5 separate regions of the Homo sapiens genome follow, and all the other regions are linked to region 5. Evidence: fine-mapped expression QTL. A gene starts in region 5. Each other region holds a variant in brackets. All regions are shown on one strand. Distances are between the middles of the regions.

What was found. PIP is the estimated chance that this variant, and not a neighbour inherited with it, causes the effect.
Region 1: its variant is the best candidate, but not a certain one, in a credible set for the expression of CPEB4 in whole blood (TOPMed, PIP 0.58).
Region 2: its variant is the best candidate, but not a certain one, in a credible set for the expression of CPEB4 in whole blood (TOPMed, PIP 0.87).
Region 3: its variant is the best candidate, but not a certain one, in a credible set for the expression of CPEB4 in whole blood (INTERVAL, PIP 0.72).
Region 4: its variant is the best candidate, but not a certain one, in a credible set for the expression of CPEB4 in Th2 cells (Schmiedel 2018, PIP 0.62).

The regions. Positions count from the first base shown.
Region 1 is chr5:173,833,038-173,837,037 of GRCh38, reverse strand. No RefSeq gene overlaps it. Among named protein-coding and RNA genes, the nearest start is that of LINC01485, 44 kb to the right of the region's middle. RefSeq lists a silencer at 1,038-1,332. The variant C/T (reference allele first, on the strand shown) is at 1,824.
Region 2 is chr5:173,838,140-173,842,319 of GRCh38, reverse strand. No RefSeq gene overlaps it. Among named protein-coding and RNA genes, the nearest start is that of CPEB4, 48 kb to the left of the region's middle. The variant G/C (reference allele first, on the strand shown) is at 1,683.
Region 3 is chr5:173,850,997-173,854,996 of GRCh38, reverse strand. No RefSeq gene overlaps it. Among named protein-coding and RNA genes, the nearest start is that of CPEB4, 35 kb to the left of the region's middle. RefSeq lists a cis regulatory region at 1,106-1,646. The variant A/G (reference allele first, on the strand shown) is at 2,192.
Region 4 is chr5:173,962,130-173,966,129 of GRCh38, reverse strand. No RefSeq gene overlaps it. Among named protein-coding and RNA genes, the nearest start is that of C5orf47, 25 kb to the left of the region's middle. RefSeq lists enhancers at 1,717-2,599, 1,494-2,693. The variant G/A (reference allele first, on the strand shown) is at 2,439.
Region 5 is chr5:173,886,624-173,890,623 of GRCh38, reverse strand. CPEB4 (cytoplasmic polyadenylation element binding protein 4) reads right to left here and starts at 2,275. Exons shown (of 10, transcript NM_030627.4): 1 at 1-2,275. The coding sequence starts at 890. RefSeq lists enhancers at 1-2, 3-504, 2,529-2,768.

The DNA.
Region 1 (4,000 bases), 54 kb after region 5:
GCCACTGCACCCCAGCCTGGGTGACAGAGCAAGACTCTGTCTCAAAAAAAAAAAAAAAAAAAAGAAAGGGAGACAAAAAGTGGAAGGACTGGGCTACTTATATATCAGCAACATGTGTTTGAATTTTGGGGTATAAATTAATTAAGCCAATAATCATGAGTTTAAAATCAACTCTTCCTCTCAGTAGAACAATGAATAAAAAGAGCTACAATTTACTTAGTCTTTAGGAGGGTGTGTGCCAGGCACTTGACTAAGCATGGACAGAAATGAGTGCAGCCCTCCTCCAGCCCTGAGAGGTAGGGTTCTTCTCCTATTGAGAGATGGGTTTAGCTAGCTCCTGTGCTGTGTTGGAGTTACACAGCTCTTCACACTGGTCCTTCTGACCCCAGATTCCTGGCCCAGTGCACGACGGGACTCTTCCACTCTTGGGACAGCCTGCTAAGTGTGCTGAGGATATCGGTAATGGTGGCAAACCATTGTGTTTCAAACCAAACCAAAAAGGAGGAATCTTGCAGGAGGTTCCATCCCAGGATAAATGCAAAAATATGTCCAGATCAATTTCAGGAGGAGAAACTGATCAGTCCACCAAGATGTAGCAGATTACTACAATGTGGTGGCTTTTTATTCAGAAAAAAAAAAATAAAACCTACTACTGTTAGGGGGCATATATGCCTTACCTTGCTTGCAGGAGGGAGGACAATCTCGCTGATAAGCCCTGGGTAGCCAGGCTGTTCAGCAGGTCCCCCCAGCCCCTGTTTTTTTGTTTTTGGCTTTGTCTACATGGCACCACAACACTGGCCTCACTAGAAGACATAGTGAAAAGTGTTGTTGTTGGGAGAAAATAGCCACAGGGTGCTCTATGTCTCTGTTAACACTTCATTGTAAACATGGGTTGTGGATTTAGAAAGTATTGAATTCAGGTTCTGACGCTTTTCTCAGTAGATTCCTGTGGCAAGCTACTAACCCCCTCTAATAATAATAGTGCTGACAGCATAGGATTATTGTGAGGGTGAAGTGAGATGCTGGTTGTCAGGGGTTTTGCCCCATGTCTGGCACACAGCAAGAGCTTAAAAGGTGAGAGTTATAATTATTCACTAGCTTAGATTACAGGCCATCCCTCAACCAGTCATGCCGGCCAGGCGATGTCATGCTCTGATTGGGCAGCCCTGGGTCACAGTTGCATTCTGAAAAGATGATACTGTTGCATGGACTAGGTATTGCAGGAAGGCAAGGGCGTGGACAGTGACTAGGAGATATTGCAGGCATTCAAACAAGAGATGATGTGGCTTGAAAGAGGGGAGCGACTGTGGTGCCAGAGATGAGGGCCACGCATTGTGCTTCTGGAAAGCTGTAGGGAGTAAGTCGTGAGTTCTCCTTCGGTGCCCCAGTAGCCCTGCTGCTTCTTCTCCATGGGAACAGGGAAGGAGGAAAACACTAAGTATCAAAGGTAGAGGAACACATACCATCAGGCTAGCTTTCCTGTACCAGATCAGGCCACCAACATTGCCCTTCTTGGCATCTTGGATTTCTAAGAAAATGCAACCCCATGGAGGGAGGGCATATTGTTAAGCCAGAAATAGGCTCAAGAGCACACTGCCAGCCATGCGAACCACACGCCACAACCAGCCCTTTATTCATGGGGTGCTGGGAACTATCTTCCTCAAGCCTCTACAACCCATCCTTGATTGCAAGCAAGTCCCTGGGTTTCAAAACAGGAAGTAGGCCAACTTGAGTTGCTCTTCTTCCTGGCAGCTTCCCTTCCTGGCAGCTCCTCCTCCAGACAAAGAAAGAGGCAGATGTTTTGCAAAGAGCAAGACGACACT[C/T]TTCATGGAGCTCTGGGGCAGGAGACAAGATGTACAATGGCACAGGACAGGGGACCTGAGTAGAGGACAGCATGGCAAGGCTGAGGCATGGACCAGCACCTCTGTATGAGGCACACCTGGAATTGATAAAGCAAGTATCATACAAGATGGAGAGGGACGTGTCTCTCATTTGACAGGCTTTGAGTTAGAACAGTCAGGATTCACATCTCAGTCTGACTCCAAAGGCCCAGACTTTCTTAGTCAACCACTTGATTGTTTTCACCTGCATAATACCTCATGACTCCAGCTGATATTTTTCCCACTGGGTTGGATGAACCAGTGGGAGAGCAATCAGAGACCATTGGCATCCATTGCCAGGAGAAAAGAATGGCCTTGTAGCTAGCTGTCTATACACTTATATGCATGTACTTTGCATATTGCAGAACATAATGAAAATGTTAGGGCTTATCACTATGAGCAGTTCTACCATTTATCATACTGATTCCTCTCTAAATTAGGACAGTCTAATTTCCCTGAAGTCAGAAAGCACCTCTATCAGTTTCATCCTGTTCATCCAAAGGATGGTACCCCATCAGAATCTCACACATGGCAGTTCATTGTATATTGCTTTAAACAGAAATAAATTGAATTATGCGCTTTATCTGTGCTCCACAGTTCTTCGGAATTTAAATGATTGCCTCATCAACGTTAAAGAGCTTTTCAGAAGCGAACACTTTCTCTAAACTCTGAAGTGATTGGTAAACATTAGTTTCAAGGAGTGTTAAGGCCATGATATTGGGTCTTAATACACAGGGGCACATTTCTCAGAAGGAGACTAAGACATGCGTGACGGTGCTGTGTCCAAGACACCCATTGTGCCTCCCAGTTTGACTTTGACAAGAGTCTGACCAACACCCAAAGCCCTCCTCAGCTTAAACTAAGGCTTGTCTTGCCAGAAACCAAAGTTCCCAGCCATTAATCAATGTCTAGTCCCTACCAGGCTGAGAATAGACTCCTTGCCTGTAAAGACATTCAAGGAAGCTGCCAGTGGCTTCTGGTAATCGCCAGTGTGAGTGGGAAAGACATAAACTATCAGCAGGTTGGGGGGAGAAATGGAACATGAGGGGCTACTGTTTTTGGCTTCATGCAAAGCAGGGTGTAATTTTTCAGAAAAAAATAAAATAGTGAAACACGAAGAACATAAGAAGGTCAGTGTCACTTCCTAGTTCACCCTGAGTTAGACTTCAAACAGTGAGTCCTTGTTTTCCGTCTTTTCTATGGGGCAAGATGTGATTGCAACTGAAGTACATTGATTAACCCAAAATAACTTTCCCTCAATTTGCTGGATGCCTAGGAATACTCCGGAGACCCTGCTTTTGTTTTGAGTTAGCCATTTGGGAGCTTGGCACCGATCCCCGTGTAGCGATTCAAACTGAGTGAACCAGAAAAATGTCAGGAACTACACAAGGACATATAGTACAGTTTAATTAGTTTAAGGAGAGGGTGGGTCCCCCCTTCTCCCTAAACATCACTCAAGCAAATTGTTTTTTTTATGGTCTTGTTAAAATAATTTCATGGTTGCAGTTTTGTTCTTATACTAACTAAGCAGGACCGCGTGGGTTATTAAAAAGGGTAGTCAGCCTGGAGAAGGTGGGTGCATTCTGTTTCCTTTTAAAAAACATAGGAGTTTAATCACCTGGCTTGTGCAATGACATATTAAAGAATGTCAGCGCAAGGCTGAAGCTCCTATTAATAATAGTCGTTAGCTAGGAAATTCTTCTGCTGACTTTAATCAGGAATTTTCCATAGTAACCAAGGCTGCCCACGGGTAGCCAGGCAGTACGGATTTTCATTCCATCACGCACATTTTTCTGTTCATTGTGATACAGAGAACATTACTTACTGGAACATGTGAGCAGAGCTATGCTCTCTGGGAGTGGAAATCTTTTACTGTTCCTCTTTCTTGGAACGGTTCCTCAAAAAGATTGGAGAACTGTCATCTTTCAAGGAAGACAAGCCACCTGTTTCAAAATACAGGCCTGTGCAGTTAATTCCAGGCTTCTGCATCTTTCTGGCATTTCTCTCTCTTCTGACATAAATCTTGTAGTCGTGACAAAGATGAGAAATCAGGGCAACCCTTCTACCTTTTGTGGGAACCAGATTCTGATTGCACAGAGACATCATTCCCCTGCTGAAGA
Region 2 (4,180 bases), 48 kb after region 5:
CGTATAACATACAAAATATGTGTTTATTGGTAAGGCTTCTGGTCAACAGCAGGCTATTAGTGGTTTGTTTTTGTTTTTGTTTTTTTGTTTTTGAGACAGGGTTTTGCTCTGTCACCCAGGCTGGAGTGCAGTGGCGTGATCACAGTTCACTGTAACCTCAACCTCCCAGGCTCAAGTGATCCTTCCTCCTCAGCCTCCCAAATAGCTGGAACTACAGGCTGCACTACCACACCCAGATAATTTTTCTTTATTTTTTTTTTGTAGAGACAGGGTCTCACTGGTTGCTAGGTCTGGTCTCAAACTCCTGGGCTCAAGCAATCCTCCTGCTTCAGCTTAGTAGATAGGTTTTAAGGAAGTCAAGTTATAAGCTGGTATGACTGTGATCAGGGGGTACTGCCGCTAACCTCTGTGTTATTCAAAGATTAACTATATTTTAAATTACACACGTGGCTTGCATTTATGACTCACGTTATGTTTCTATTAGATACCAATGTTGTAGCTCATGGTCTATGCACACACTGGGGACTAGAATACCTTGCCCAAACAGCTATGAGCTTATTTCCAGAAACTGCATGGACTCCTTCCCCAGGTCTGTCCTCTCAAAGGCTGAGCAAGCCGCCCGTGCGCAAACCTTGAAGCCCATTGGTGGCCAAGGGTAGCTGTTGGTTGGGAGGGGAAATAGACAATGGAGTTTGGCTGTGAGGCCGGGGCACCCTCAGGTGTTTTTGCCTGCACAAGGCCCATCTCAGTACAGATACAGACCAAGGCGGGGAGAGAAGTGGGGCAGGAGCCGGGCCTGGGGCTTGGGATTGGCTTTCCAAGGTCACCACCTGTAGGCGCAAAATGCTGAGGCATCTGAGATTTCTAAATTCAATCTTGACCTTCCAGATTGTTAGGCAGATATATTTGTCAAGGTATGCAGCTAGACATATTTTATTTAACAGTTCATTAGCTTGATTTATAACTTTTAATATTTAGACGTATAATATGTGGGTCTCTGTTTGTACTCTTGCCCTGGGCAAGTAAAGTAATTACCATACAGGTTTATAAGGGCGAGATACAGGATGTACGTGGTGCAGTGGGAGCCTAAAGGAGGGACACGCTCTGCCTGGGACGGAGTGGCTTCTGCATAACAATGAAATCCAGGGGAAAGGGTCATGGCTGGGGACCACGACTACAGTGAAAAGAAGTCAAACCTATTTTTCTTTTCCTTGGCAGAAGGGAGGAGGAATACCTGGGCATTTGGCTGCTGGGCTGGGGACCCTGGTGAGCCAACCAGTCTTACCCCCCTGCACTGCCTCACATTTGCAGCCATGGGGCACCTGCTTGTGCCCCATCCGTCTGGTTCTTCAGAGTAAAAAGAAGATGGATTCAATGCTGAGGGGGCCCAGAGTCTCATCTGGGCCTTTTACCAGCTCTAGTTCTTTTACACTTCCCAATGGCAGTACCATGCACAAGATGATATGACATCCTGGGGAAGACTTTGGGATAGACCTTGGTGTGGGACTGCTTGGGTTTGAATTTCAGGTCCCTTTCTCTGGGTCTCAGTTTCCCCATCAGTAAAATGGGTTTGAAAATAATAGTACCATAAGAGAGTTCTTAGGAGATGAACTGAGATAATATTTGTAAAGAACACAAAGCACCGTATACACCCCAGTCCTTACTAATTTTATTGACAGATG[G/C]GACACTGTGGGGTAGAAGGTGAGGAAGCTGGCTTAAAGACCACACCAGGTTTCAGGACCAAGGTTTCAACCATGTTCTCCTTCCCTCCAAAGCTTGTGTTCTTTCCCGCTCTCACATGTGAGCATTTCTCAACCACAAAGATAAATTCATCTTCTCTTGCATGTGAGGTGTATTCATTGAGCTGGAGAGAGAAGACTAAAAATAACGTTAGGTGTAAATTTCATCCAGTGAGAAGGGCTGTGCCTTGGTTGGGCTGGGCATGAAAGGAAATGCTTAGCTCTCCATTTTCTCCTTGCTTTTCAACCAAAAGCCTTTGGCCTGAAAACACACCTGAGCCTGTGATGAGTTTTGGAAACCACAATTGTGATGACAGGGCGGGAGACCTTGCCAAGGCTCTCCGAGACTTGACCCTGCCATCCCTGCTACAGAACTCCCCTCCTGCCCTCTCCTTCTCCTCAGAGTGCTAGAAGGAGCCAGGTGGGTGCTCTCCTCAAGACCTCATATGCATGCAAAGACCCAGATCTTCCCAACGCTAGCCACTGCTCAAATGTCACAACCAGAGAGTCTCCCCGACCACCCTACCTCAAGCCTCTTCTACCACCCCACCCCAACCCACTCTCCAGCATGGTGCCTCCTTTTTAAGTCTCATAGCCCTTAGAGCAATCTGAAACCTTGTTCATTTCTGCGTCAATCTGTTTCTTGCATCCTGCCCCTTTAGCGTGGAAGCTGGAAGACAGCAGACCCGGTGTGTCGCTCACTGCTATGTCTCCAGAGCCTCCAACGTGCCTGATGCCTATTAGTCCTCAAAATTTTTTAGTAAATAAATGTATGCATGGAGGAATGAATGAACAAATAAATGAAACCTCAGTTCTGGTCCCAACTGTGCCACTAAATTGCTTTACCTCTGGGTCACATTCTTCTCAATTATGAAACGAGAGGGCTGCATTCGATTAGGAATTTTTTAGGGGTACTTTGTGGGTAACACTGAAGGGTTTAAGCAGGAGCGTCATGTGGTCACATTTGTAGTGAAGAAAAAAAGAAAATCACCCTGGGACCCAGTAGAAAGTGGATTGAAGGTGCCTATTCTGGAGTTCAGGGAGTGGCCAGGAGCTGTGACAGACATACAGGCCAGAGACAAGTGAGTCACCCAGGTTTATCAGGAGACAGCAGATAAAGCTCACAAACCCTCTCTCAAGTGACAAACTGCTACCAGGAACCCAAGCAGATTCTAGAGTTCTATATGGGGTGGTTGAAGCCTCTCTGTCTCTATCTCTTCCCCACACGCATATAAACACTGGCCATCCCCTCCCCTGCTTTGTTGCCACCTGGGGCTTACCATATGATGACAGGTTAATCAGGTGATTGTGACAGATTACAAGAATACTTAATATTGATGAATCTTCTTCCTAGTGACTACTTACATATCATCGACCCTTTTCCATGTGGAGCTTACAATAGTACCTATAATATTATGTATGTACAATAACACAATACAATACAACAGTAAACTACAAAGCTATACATAGAGAACAAATCAGGATTAGGGAAAGAGAGATTTAATAGATCAGGGCCAGGAAGGAAGTTAGGACATAAACAAGCAGACAAAGGATTCTAGGCGTTTATCAAAGTTGGCCACATATTTAGATTGAGCTTCCCAGTGGCCAGAACAAAAAGGAAAACATGATGATGCTTGAGAATATGAAAAAAAAATATGATGCTACATTATTTGTGCCATATAAGGAAAAAGTATACTAATGTCTCAGAAGTAAAACTTTCTTTTTTTTTTTGAGATGAAGTCTCGCTCTGTCACTCAGGCTGGTGTGCAGTGGCACGATCTCAGCTCACTGCAACATCTGCCTCCCGGGTTCAAGCAATTCTCTGCCTCATCCTCCTGAGTAGCTGGGATTACAGGTGCCCACCACCACACCAAGCTAATTTTTGTATTTTTAGTAGAGATGGGATTTCACCATCTTGGCCAGGCTGGTCTTGAACTCCTGACCTTGTGATCCACCCGCCTCAGCCTCCCAAAGTGCTGGGATTACAGGTGTGAGCCACTGTGCCCTACCCAGAAGTAAAACTTTCTTTGGCACCTGAATTGGAAATGACTTACATTTTTTTAACATGAGATAATCCTATTTATTTTTAAAAACATAAGTATACATAGACAGAAAATTTTGAGTAAATACACCAAATCATTGATTACAACTATTTAGGTAGTAGGATGAGAATGTTAGTGACATATTACTTTCTCAGTGATCTTATGAATTTTCTAAATTTTCTGGAATACATGGTTATTGAATTTTTTTTTTTTTTGTATTTTATATATTCAGGCTAGAGTGCAATGGCATGATCAGAGCTCACTGCAGGCTTGAACTCCTGGGCTCAAGCAATCTTCCTTCTTTAGCTTACCAAATAGCTGGGACTACAAACACATGTCATCATGCCTGGCTAAGTTGATTTTTTTTTTTTTTTTTTTTTTTTTTGTAGATTCTTGCTA
Region 3 (4,000 bases), 36 kb after region 5:
AAGAAAAAGGAGAGGAAGAAAGAAGAAAGAAAGAAAGAAAGAAAGAAAGAAAGAAAGAAAGAAAGAAAGAAAGAAAGAAAGAAAGAAAGAAAGAAGGAAGGAAGGAAGGAAGGAAGGAAGGAAGGAAGGAAGGAAGGAAGGAAGGAAGGAAAGAAAGAAAGAAAGAAAGAAAGAAAGAAAGAAAGAAAGAAAGAAAGAAAGAAAGAATCAGGCATCCTAGGCGGAGGTGAGGTCAGGGAAGTGGGCAGGGGACCACTGATTTGCTTGTGAACAGGCTGCATTACTCATCTGTGAAAAATGAAGCTGATAATAATATATTTCATAAATGTGCCAACAGTACATGATAAGGCTCACCATTGTGTAATGTGCCATCAAGAAAGAATAACAACTGTCAATTAAACTCTGACATGCCATCAATTGTAAAATATACTCTGATTTTTGAGATGTTAAAATGTGAAAAAGAAAACAAAAAGTGTGTGTGGTAGAACCATCGAAATCTGGTGGTAGCAACCTATGAGGCAGAGGCAGAACTGGGATTTCCCTGCAGGATCCCTCTTTCTGTTCTTCCTTTGTTGTTTGATATTTGTGTTTCTTCCAGTATGGTGAAATTGTTTCTGTAGTTTCTTAGGACCATATCTTGAGAGTGGAGCCAAGAGGTTTGACTCACATGATGGGATGGAAAAAGTCACTTGGGCCGGGTGCGGTGGCTCACACCGGTGATCTCAGCACTTTGGGAGACAGAGGTGGGAGGATCACTTGTGCCCAGGAGTTTGAGATCAGCCTGGGCAAAATAAGGAGACCTGCTCTGTACAAAAACAATTAAAAGTCACCCTGGCTTGGTGGCATGTGCCTATAGTCCCACCTACTAATGAGGCTGAGGCAGGAGGATTGTTTGAGCCCAGGAGGTCAAGGCTGCAGTGAGCTATGATTATGCACTACCCTCTAGTCTGGGTGACGGAGTGAAATCCTTTCTAAAAAAAAAAAAAGAAAAGGAAAAGAAAAAGAAAAGGAAAAAAAGGTCACGTGGTATAGCGTGAAAACAACATAAGTTTGAATTCCTCTTGGGCCCCCCAGCTTTGATGGGACTTTGGGCAAGGCTCAAAGTCCCTAAGCCTTCCCTGAGCCTCTTTCCTCTTCTCGCTCTCCTGGTTGCTGTGAGGATTCGCTGAAGTGGTGTGCAGGGGCCTTTTAGCTCCTACTCAACACACAGTAGGTGCTCTATCCGTTCCCTTCCTTGAAAGTGAGGAGAGATTGGAAAACAGCCCCGAGATAAAAATAACCTTTGTCTCAACTCTCCTTCAAAACCCACCTGCCCTAATGAAGCTCCATCTTGCATTTTGCCTTTGAGTCAACAGTTCCTAGAAATGGACACAACTTCTCAGTACTCTGCATGGTGGCTGAATCAGCTCCCACCAATCTATCACATGCAGCCGGACGTACTTGCCATTTCAGTCACACTCGCTAAGTGCTTCCATCTAAACCTCTTGAGGCTACAAGGTACCAAATGTTTTGAATTAATTGGCTTCTATTTTCCTTTCTGTACATGCGCCTCAGTGCCTTTTTAGGGTGAGATTGACTCACAGAGTCCTTCCTGAATTCTGGCAGCCCTGATTCTACTTGGAGTTAATTATCTCTAATATGCTGTACAATTCCCTCTGTACCTTTTATGACATGGAGTTGAGGCATAATTTATCCAAGTCTATCATTGGAGATTTTTTTTTTTTTTTTAGAAAAAAAGAATGATGTGTGTGCCTCGTAAGAAAATCCACTCAGCCCATTAATTGTTTATTCACTGGGTGTTTCTCGAGGACAATCCTCTTTGCCCAGCATTGTGCTATGTCCCTTATAATTCATGACCAAGTGATAGGCATGTCACAAGCCTAGCAGTCAGTATTCTTACTCCCATTTGGCCAGGGAAATACTTAGTTCGGAATGGAGAATGGCTTGCTGTAGTAGTTCTTCTCCATTTGCTCTCTCTGCCATCTCTTTGTGCTGGGGTCCTTGTCCTCTGGGCTTCCTGCTGGGTTCAGCCAATTGAGGCACTAGCAGGAGAAGAGAGAAGTCGAAGTCTTTCTTCCCCATCCTTACCTAGTTAGGTGCCACCTGTCTGCCAGTCGTTGAGTCCCTCCATGAGTGTGATGCCTGATAGAGGGCAATGCCACCGTTTCCTCCGTCTGTCCCCTCTGCTCTG[A/G]AGGGGTAACAACTCCTCCTCGTTGCTCTTCTTTGCATGCTTCGTCATTCCTGGTTTATTTCCTCATCCTCCCAGCACCTGTGTGGTCCCTTCCCTCTTTTTCTTTTTCTTTTTTTTTCATTTTATAGTAGAGAGATGGGGTTTCGCTCTGTCACCTGGGCTGGAGTACAGTGGTGCGATCATAGCTCACCACAGCCTTGAACTCCTGGGCTCATGTGATCCTCCCACCTCAGCCTCCCAAGTAGCTGGGATGATAGGTGGGAGCCACAGCACACAGCATGTGGTCAGTTCCTTAAAGTCTCTTCACCTGACCCATCTGCAGTGAGTGGCGTTTCCTCCAGGACCCTGACTGACACACTCAATCAAGACCACGCAGCTGATAGCCACACAGCGGGCCTGGGATTCCACATTTGCCACAAGTCCACTCTCTCTTGAGTTCTGCCGTCCCGTGTCTGTTATCCTGAGAACTTGGGGTTTTCTCGGATAAGGAAAAGGAAGGTGTGTTTTATCTTCAAATGTCTTTATATTTTTGATAGGACACTTGGAGGAAATCAGGCTTTTTGAGAATTCAGTGACAGCATATGTGTTTCGCTCCCAAAACTCTATTCAAATTCATCCCATTGAAATCAAACCCCTAGTTCCTTTTGAAAGACTATTGTCCAGCGGTAGCTTCAAAGGCAATAGCAGGAAGTTATATCAACCTGCTAGGGCTGCCATAAACAAAGTACCACAAACTGGGTGGCTGAAAACAATGGAAACGTATTCTCCCACAGCTCTGGAGGCCAGGGTTGGAAAATCATGGTGTCAGCAGGGCCCTGTTCCTCTGAAACTCTGGGCAGATGCTTCCTTGCCTCTCCTTGCTTCCGGTGGTTGGCTGGCGATCTTTGATGTTCCCCGGCCTGCAGCTGCATCACTCCAGCCCCTTCCTCCGGTGTCATATGGTGTTCTTCCCTTATGTGACTTCATGTATGTCCCTTCTCCTCTTCTGGGAAGGCACCAGTCATACTGGATTAACGGCCCACCCTACTCCAGTATGACCTCATCTTAACTAATGACATCTTCAACAGCCCTACTGTCAAAGAAGGTCACACTCCAAGGTATGGGGGTCAGGGCTTCAACACGTCTTTTTGGGTGACACAATTTAACCCATATCAGAGCTGTCACTGAGGACGGTACTGACTTGGGGCAAAGAGGGTCTGATGGCCACTTGGAGACTGGTTTAGCTCCAAGTGACAGTCAGACCCTCCTTGCTCCAAGTCAAAAAAAAGAAAAAAAGATTTAAGAAAAGAAAAAAATCAGGAGCTATGATAAACATTTAAGGGTGGGCAGACCTTTTTTTCTTAATGGCCACAGGCAACATTGTTTTCTGAGCAAAGCCATCTTTATATGAATTTCTCATCTGGAGTGACAGGGATGGGGTGGTGGAGACTTAGAGAAGTGAATGATTGGATAGTTCATCATTTTCAAAGAGCTGAGAGGACCTGTGGAGACATTCAATGTGTCTGTGTGTATTGGTGGCTGGGCAGTGGGGAGCTGGGTAATGAAGCAGATGTTTAAAAAAATTCCCTTTCCTGTCTTTCAGAGCAACATTTCTCAGTCTGCACCAGCTTGTACAATACGCAGGAGTGGGAGACTGCAAGGGTAGTGAGGACAAGAGAATCCCAGGGCAAGGGGAGAAAGGGTCATGGAGGAAAAAAGACTTTGGAGAGGTTCTAGAAAATTGCAAGAATCAGCACCTCTTCCTTCCTCTTTCCTCCCTCCCTTCCTGCCCTCCTTTCATCTATTCGTCTTCCAGACTTCCCCTCACCT
Region 4 (4,000 bases), 76 kb before region 5:
CCATGTTGATCAGGCTGGTCTCGAACTCCTGATCTCGTGATCTGCCCACCTTGGCCTCTCAAAGTGCTGGGATTACAGGCATGAGCCACCGCCCCCGGCCTTATTATTATTATTCTCACTCCTAAAATTGTGTTTCTGGAATTCTTGGGTTTACAATACTAGAGAAAAGGGCCCTCCTTTTTCTTTGTTTCCTACTCCAAACTGATGTGTCTCTCTTGGTGGTTGGATCAAAGAGAAAGAATATGTACTAAGAAGTCTGTACTGTACTTCCTTAAAGTGAATAGAAATGTCATTTCAACTACCTTGTCCCTACTCCTAAAATATATACCCAGTTCTGGCCTCTGAGCCATACTCATGGGCTTAATGGAAGCCAGTAAGGCAGACAAGAACTGCAGAGGTGGGCCTGAGCCACCTGAGCTTGACAGAGCTCAAGGACTTCCCTCTGGCCTCCTTATCTGCCTCCCTACTAACTAATTACATGACCTCGAGCACCTGTCTTAGCTGAGAGTCAGTTTTTAAGAGAGGAAGTGGCCACATTTTAGGACTCACAATCAAAACTCACATTTGCTCTTACAAAGTTTATTTTTATTTTTTATTTTTAAAATTAGAGGCAGGGTCTTGCCATGCTGCCCAAACTCGTCTTGAACTCCTGGCCTCAAGTGATCCTCCCACCTTCCAAAGTGCTGGGATTACAGGCATGAGCCATTGTTCCCAGCCATTGTACAACTTTTGAGTTTTTTTGGTTTTATTTTGTGGTGTTTTTGTTTTATCCCCCAAGATGGTCTCACTTTGTTGCTCAGGCTGGAGTGCCATAGTGAGATCGTGGCTCACTGCAGCCTCCACCTGCTGGGCTCAAGCGATCCTCCATCTCAGCAGCCCCCTTCCCCCGCAGCAGCTGGAACGACAGGCACACACCACCATGCCCAGCTAAGTTTTTGTTGTTGTTGTTGTTGTTGTTGAGACGGGGTTTTGCCATGTTGCCCAGGCTGGTCTTGAACTCCTGGGTTCAATTGATCCTCAGCCTAGGTCTCCCGGAGTGCTGGGATAACAGGCGTGAGCCACCGTGCCCACCCATCTTACAACTTTTGTTTTATCATCCTATCTCTATAGTTTCAAATATGACAGTTACACCCAGATTAGGTTTAGGAATGAAACTTTTCTTTTAAAAACAAAATAAAACTTGAATAAAAAGCCCTGATCCTGTTCATTGCTAATCCAGCGGCAAGAAGGTTTAAAGGAGAAGATTTGAGATTAGTAGATGAGAATTGGGACCTAGGCACATCCCAGCCTTGGCCAAATCACCCACCTTCTCCATGAGACAGTTCTATGATCTGTTCAATACCTCATGGAAGTGTTATCCTTGCTAATGTATGTAAGGGCCTGATATATAACAGGGGATCAGCATTTACTAGTTTCTTCTGAACCAAATCATTCCGTCATTGAAGTCAGCAGTGCTGAGAGTCATCTGATGGATGTGACTATTCCACATTCCCACCCTCACCCCACCCCACCCTCACCCCACCCTCACCCCACCCCACCCCACCCCAACCCTCACCCTCACCCCACCCCACCCTCACCCCACCCCACCCTCACCCCACCCCACCCCAACCCTCACCCTCACCCCACCCTCACCCTCACCCCACCCCACCGTCACCCTCACCCCACCCCACCCTCACCCACCCTACCCCACCCAGCACGCTGTTGGAATCAAACCTTCTGTCACCAAACACTCAAGGACCCACAGCACTTTTCCCTCAAACATGAAAGGGGAATTGTGCCTTTGAAGCGGCGTTGTGGTCTGGGGTAAGTACCCGAGGTTCGTCGTCTCGTGCCAGGGAAATCAACAACGCGGACATACAAGAAGTGAGTTTAACCCTGGAGGTTCAATAAGCAAAAGAAAGAGAATAGCTCTCTCTCTTAGGAGAGAGAGGGGCTCCCGGGTGGGACTTCCGGCTCCACAATGAAATGCATGGGATTTTATAGATGAGCTTGAGGAGGCGTGTCTGATTCACGTAGGGCCAGAGAGATTGGTCGGACCAGGCGTGACACTTGCATCACGCACAAAGAAGCTGGCCATCCCACCCTAATCTTTTATTATGCAGATGGGGGTCTCTACCTGGCCAACGCCATGTTGCCTGCCTTTCTACTGCACACATAGCGACAAAGAAAAGGAAGAGGGAGCCTCCATGTTGAACATGCCTGGCCCCCAGCTAGCCTTTTCCTGTTGGCACAGCTGCCGGCATTTACCTATGCAGGCTTCCAGCTTGCTTATTTATGTCTGCAGCTCGATTTTACAGGCTGCTCTTTGTTAGAAAAGAAATGATTTGGGGGCTGCTTTTTGTTAAAAGGGAAGCCTGAGGACTCTCTTACCCTCGCTAACCGCCTAAATAATTTCCTTTTAGCTCCTGTATCACCTTCATTCCTCCAAATAAGGAAGC[G/A]CCAGGTCTTTCTTGGATCCTAGCTAAAACATTCTTTGCAGCTTCACATAATTATTTTACCACCACCCCTCCCGGTTCTCTTCCTGGGTAACTGATTTCACGAGTTTAAAATGCCCTGCTGCCTTTGGTGGGTTCTGGGGAGTCACTCCTAGGTCTCACAGGGAGGTGGGAGAAGAGTTGAAAATAATCTCTTTAAAATGGTGACATTTGCTTGATCACATTGACATTTTTAGGGTATCAAAGCCGGGCTTCCTGAAATAGAACTCCGATGAAAAGGATAAAGAAAGCTCAAGCTTAGCTGCTGGCATTTGCGTGCACTGATTCACCACCTCCAGCCCAGCTACCCACAGGCAGTTTTTCCCTGACACTGAATCAAATTACACGCAATACTAAAGGCTGGAGGTTTGCTCACATTCTGATTTGGGATGCTGCTGTTCATTTTTAACTTCCCTGAGACAATGTGTACTTTTCCAACTCTGGTCACCACGCTGAATCACAATAAGACACTTTTTCCAGACAGCCAACAATGACACCCAGCTTGACTAGAGAAAGATGATAACCCAAAATATCCTGAGAAGACTCAAGGCACGGCAAAATAAAATGTTCTCTAATGAGGACGACTGAATTGGTATTGCTAGGTAAGAGTTCCTAGTGGGGCGCAAATGTTCATTTTCTAAATTCTTAGAATTTATTCAAAGCCAGTGGCGCCTATTCTCAAGAGAATCAGCGGGTGAGGGGTGCTGAGGGAAGTTTGCAAAAGAAAATTTTGAAGGAGGATATAGGAATGATGAGAAAGGGAGACAGCATATCATAGAATGGCAGATTCAAAGCACTAGCTGCTTGTCTCAAGTGGCATTTGAGGCACTCATGAGAAACAAGGGCTGGTCTGAGACAGTGAAAAGCATAATCAAAATAGCTTTATTGTGCAAAGTAACTTCTCTTTTTCTTTCTTCTGGGATGGTAGTAGAGGGAAGACGAATTAGGAGGATGCACTGGAACTAGGACAGGGCTTAGAAGCTACGTAAGTACCTAGAACTCCAGTAAAGTAGGTGTGGGCAATGAAAGCAGCTCTGAAAGTGGCTCACAAGTGGCAGGGCCAAGCACCCTTCCAGAACACATGTATGGATGCCAAAAAACAAAGTGGGGTTTCAAAGCTTCTTGAAACATACTAAAATGTTACAGTGGTATAGCCCAAAGTATGTTCCATGTGTTACCTGTAAACAGAATCTGTAGTCAGAGAAATTGGAGTGAGAGGGACACTTTCAACAAAGTAAATAGGTTTCTGGCTGGGCACGGTGGCTCACGCCTGTAATCCCAGCACTTTGGGAGGCCAAGGCGGGCGGATCACCTGAGGTCAGGAGTTCGAGACCAGCCTGACCAACATGGAGAAACCCCATCTCTACTAAAAATACAAAATTAGTTGGGCATGGTGGTGCATGCCTGTAATCCCAGCTACTTTGGAGGCTGAGGTAGGAGAATGGCTTGAACACGGGAGGCAGGGGTTGCAGTGAGCTGAGAGCACACCATTGCACTCACTCCAGCCTGGGCAACAAGAGCAAAAC
Region 5 (4,000 bases):
GAGGAGGGTGTTGGTGACGGACTCTGGTAGCTGCTCCACGGAGAGGGGGGTTTGTTAAGATTATTCGCCAAATGAGGCAGCTGGTTAAAAGCAGCATTTCTATGTGTGAAGGGTGGGGGATGGGGACTGGCAGGAGACCTCCTTTGCTGCTGATGCTGGCTGTGATGATGCTGGAAATGAGGGTGATGTGGGTGGTGCTGTGAGAGAGGCCCGATCTGAGGAGAGAAGCTGCCTCCAAAGCCAGGGCTGACATGATGGGGGAAATTTTGAAACAACAGAGCACCGTTATTAGCCGAAGCAGCAGGGACCCCTCCCTGGTGAAAGAAACTTGCATCTTCATTGATTATTGTAGAGGAGGAAGGCGCTATCGCTGCTGACCAGTTACTGAAACCAGTAAGAGACGATGCGCTAGATGTCAAGGGTTGGGTTGAAGTACCTAGCCCAGTGGCTTCTTGATAATCAAACCCTGTCAACACTGGAGATTCGATCCTTATTTTCTCCTTCCCATTGCCATTTTCCGAAGAATTGTCCCCTTGATTTTCTTCTGATTTTGCCTTCTCTGTTTCAGGCAGTATTCCAGCTTCCTGACCTGGACTTGGGGAAAGCTGCTGCTTTTCTAAGGGGTCTTGCTGTTCCTGTTGCTGACTTTTTGCTTTTTCTGACCCCAAGATCTCATCCTGAATGTTATGGGTAGCTGGAGCAGGAAAAAGCCAAGCTGACCCAGCACTGCTGCCATTGGCAGCTGTGTTATTATTTATAAAAGCAGCAGGGCTGGGGGTGGCATTTTGGTGATGGTGTGGAGGCTGCAGATGTGGATGGAATCTGACTGGAAAAGCAGATTTATTCCCAGTATTGCTTTGCACTAGCACTCCAAACCCGTAATCCCCCATTTATTATCTTTAGGAGCAGAATCTCACAATAAAAAATGACAACCTGATGTCTCACGCCTTTTTTTTCCTCTACCCCAAATTTAAGTTGTTTGCTTGCTTGCTTGAAATGTCTTATTTATAGCTAGCTCAAAGATCGCAGCTTATCACCTTAAATTGTTCTGATTTGGAATTCTGGTCTCTGAAAGAAAAAACAACTCTTAAAAAAATCTCTTAAAACATTGACTTGGATCCAATTGGGCTTATTTTTAGGAGGGAATAAAAATGAAGAGGGTAAAAATCAAGTCTTTGGTTAGTAAAATAGGCGCTTTCTTTTTCCAAAGGAAAATGTACATGAATGACAAAAACAGAGCTTCTCAAGCATCTATGGATGTAGAAGAATAAGCCTTGCGCGGAGTAAAAATATAGATATATATAATTTAACAATCACATATGGTTTTCCTCAGCAGTTTAGATTCACTCACATAAAAATTAGAATAGGACTAAGAGGGGAATACGTTCTTTTCTTGGCAGCTTGGTTAAAAAAAAATCAGGAATAATTTAAGAACATTATATATTATATATTTATATATATAGATTATATTAGGTTATCTGGGGTGGGAAGTGAATTCCTGGTTTCGGGAGAGGAAATCAGCATTGACTAATGGAAAGATGATTGCAGGGAGGTTTCTGCTGTTCCTGGTCCTGTTTTCTGCTCTTTCGCAGGGTGCAGTTTTGGCCTCTGGGGCTGTTCCTGAGGCTCCGGGTGCAGATCTTGCTGCGGTCGCTGTTCCTGGGCTCCCCGCGGCTTCCTCTCCCCCATGAAAGGGGTTGGAAACACCCGTTTCTCCCTCTTGCGGGGGTCGCGATCAGGAGGGATTAGCGAGACTCGACGAGGGTGAGCGGGCGGCCTGGGGGTGCGGGGACCGAGGGGGCGACCTGGAAGGTCCTGCGGTTTCTGCCTCTTCCCCTCTCTGCGGCTCCGGGGTTTTTTTCCCTCATGGGACCCAGGGGCGGTTTGTTCAGTTCCCTCAGTTCGATTCTCCGCAGAGAGGGAAAAAAGAGGAAAAAAAGGAAAAACCCACTACCGTAGTTATTTTAAAGGAGAAGGGCCTCCCCCCTCGGCTTTCTCTCTCTTTTCCCCCAGAATTTTTTTTTAAACTATAATTTAGAAGGCTTTTGTTTCTCCTCACGGTTGCTGGGCCGTCGCCGCCGTCGCCGCTTTACCCTGGTCCCGCAGTCCCCGCTGTCGTTGTTGAGGACTCCTCCTGGTTCTTCTTTTTCTTTCCTTCTTCCTCCTCTTCCTCCTCTGCTGTCGCCGCTGCTGCCGCCGCCGCCGCCGCCACCGCCTCCCGGTGCCCGGGTCCCGCAGCCGCGGCTGAGTCCTTCTCCTCAGGACCGAGCCGAGTGAAATGACAACCAGCTGGAAAGACCCAGAGACACTTCCGGTTCGAAGAGGGAGGGGTGGGGGTAGCACTCATTCCCCACCTACCTGCCGGAAGACCAATCATCTGTTAGAACTCAGGCGAGGCCACGCCCCCTCGCTTCAGAGCTACTCCCAGGAAGGTCGAAAAGTTACCTCCAGAGACGCCTCTTCCGTCTGCGCCTCGCCTAGTGAGGCCCGGCGCCTGGAACCCGCTTCCCCCACCCAGAGTGAGCGCAGCAGGTCGCCATCTTTTGTGTGGGCAAGGGACTCCTTTGATATTTCTCTTCCCTAACTGGGCTTTGCAGGAGGAGCAATAGGGACGTGTCAAGGAGAACGGATTCCTCGCTCACGAAGGCATACGGTCAAGGTGTTGGAGATCGAAGTGGCGGCCCGTGAAACCGCGGATGAATGAGAAGGGTGCCCACAGTAAAGGTGGTGCTCCAAGCATCACGTGCTCTGGCCCGAGCTCCGCCCCAGAGGGATCTGGAAGGGGAGGCGGGTCTTGCCAGCAGCTGTGCGGTGCCTAGAACTGCGTTTGCCCTTGCCCAGAATGTAGACCTCACGAGGGACTCTCCCTTAACCTTCCATTCGCTCACCCGCACCTCCCACTCTCCCATTCTGCTAGGCTCGCATCTGGTGCAGTCTCCCAGGTGCAGAGATGCAGCTGAGGCGTCTGTGGCTATGCCCCCGTATCATCCCGATCTAGTACACCTTACACGCAATACCAGAGGGAAAATTCCAAAACTAAAATTTTATCTTGACCCTCACATGCTCCGATTTCTTCTATGGTTGCCCATTATTTCGAAGATAAAGGCCAAACTTGTTAGTCTGGTATTCAAGCCTTTCTACCTAATGGGTGGTATATCTTAGTGCCTCTTCCCCCTCCAAACACACTCTCAATGCCTTTTTACATGTCCTTTCCACTCTTCTCCTTTGGTAAATTCCTATTTATTTCTAGGAATCAGTTCAAAAGCCACCAACAGCATCTTCTGAATTCTCTCTTATAAGCGTCCACGGCCCTGTGTACCTCTCGTGCTTGTTTCTCACACTATATTGTGATGGTTTATGTCTTCCAGACCTGTGCTGGACCGTGGGCTCTTTCAGGAGCAGACATTGTAGATAGGAGACATCAGTGAATGAATCCTGAAAACGTGAATGAACAAACCAGCAACAATGAAGTCTTCCCTGAGTGACAGCCCCCCAACCCACTGCCACCCCTTCCACCCGTCACCCACCCCCCACCCCTCACTCCTGTTTCCAAGTCTGAATTAATTATTTCCTTCCTTTTGCCATTTGGTTTGGAGCTCACATATCAGACTTTTCATTATGTTTGGTACTCAAGGGCTTTAATGTCCTGTTTATCTTTGTACATTCCCAACGCTATGACCACCATCAGGGCTTAGGATAATGCTTTGCTCTCAGCACAGCTTTAAATATGTTAAATAAGTGAGTATTTTCCTTTAGCAGGAAGAAAAATGAACAAAGAAATCAGGGTAGAGCCAGAAGTAACTGGCACAACTAGAGGGAAAAAAAAGATACCAAGATTAATGAAAAATAGTATGAACAAAGGTGGCTTCCATTTCATTTCCATAGCCTTCCTCTAATGGTCTCAACTTCTGCCTCAGTCTGTCAATCCTCCATCACTTCCGTGTAGAACACCTGAGGGCCTTCAATCGGTGATTTTATTCTCTTTCATTGTGCCATGAGC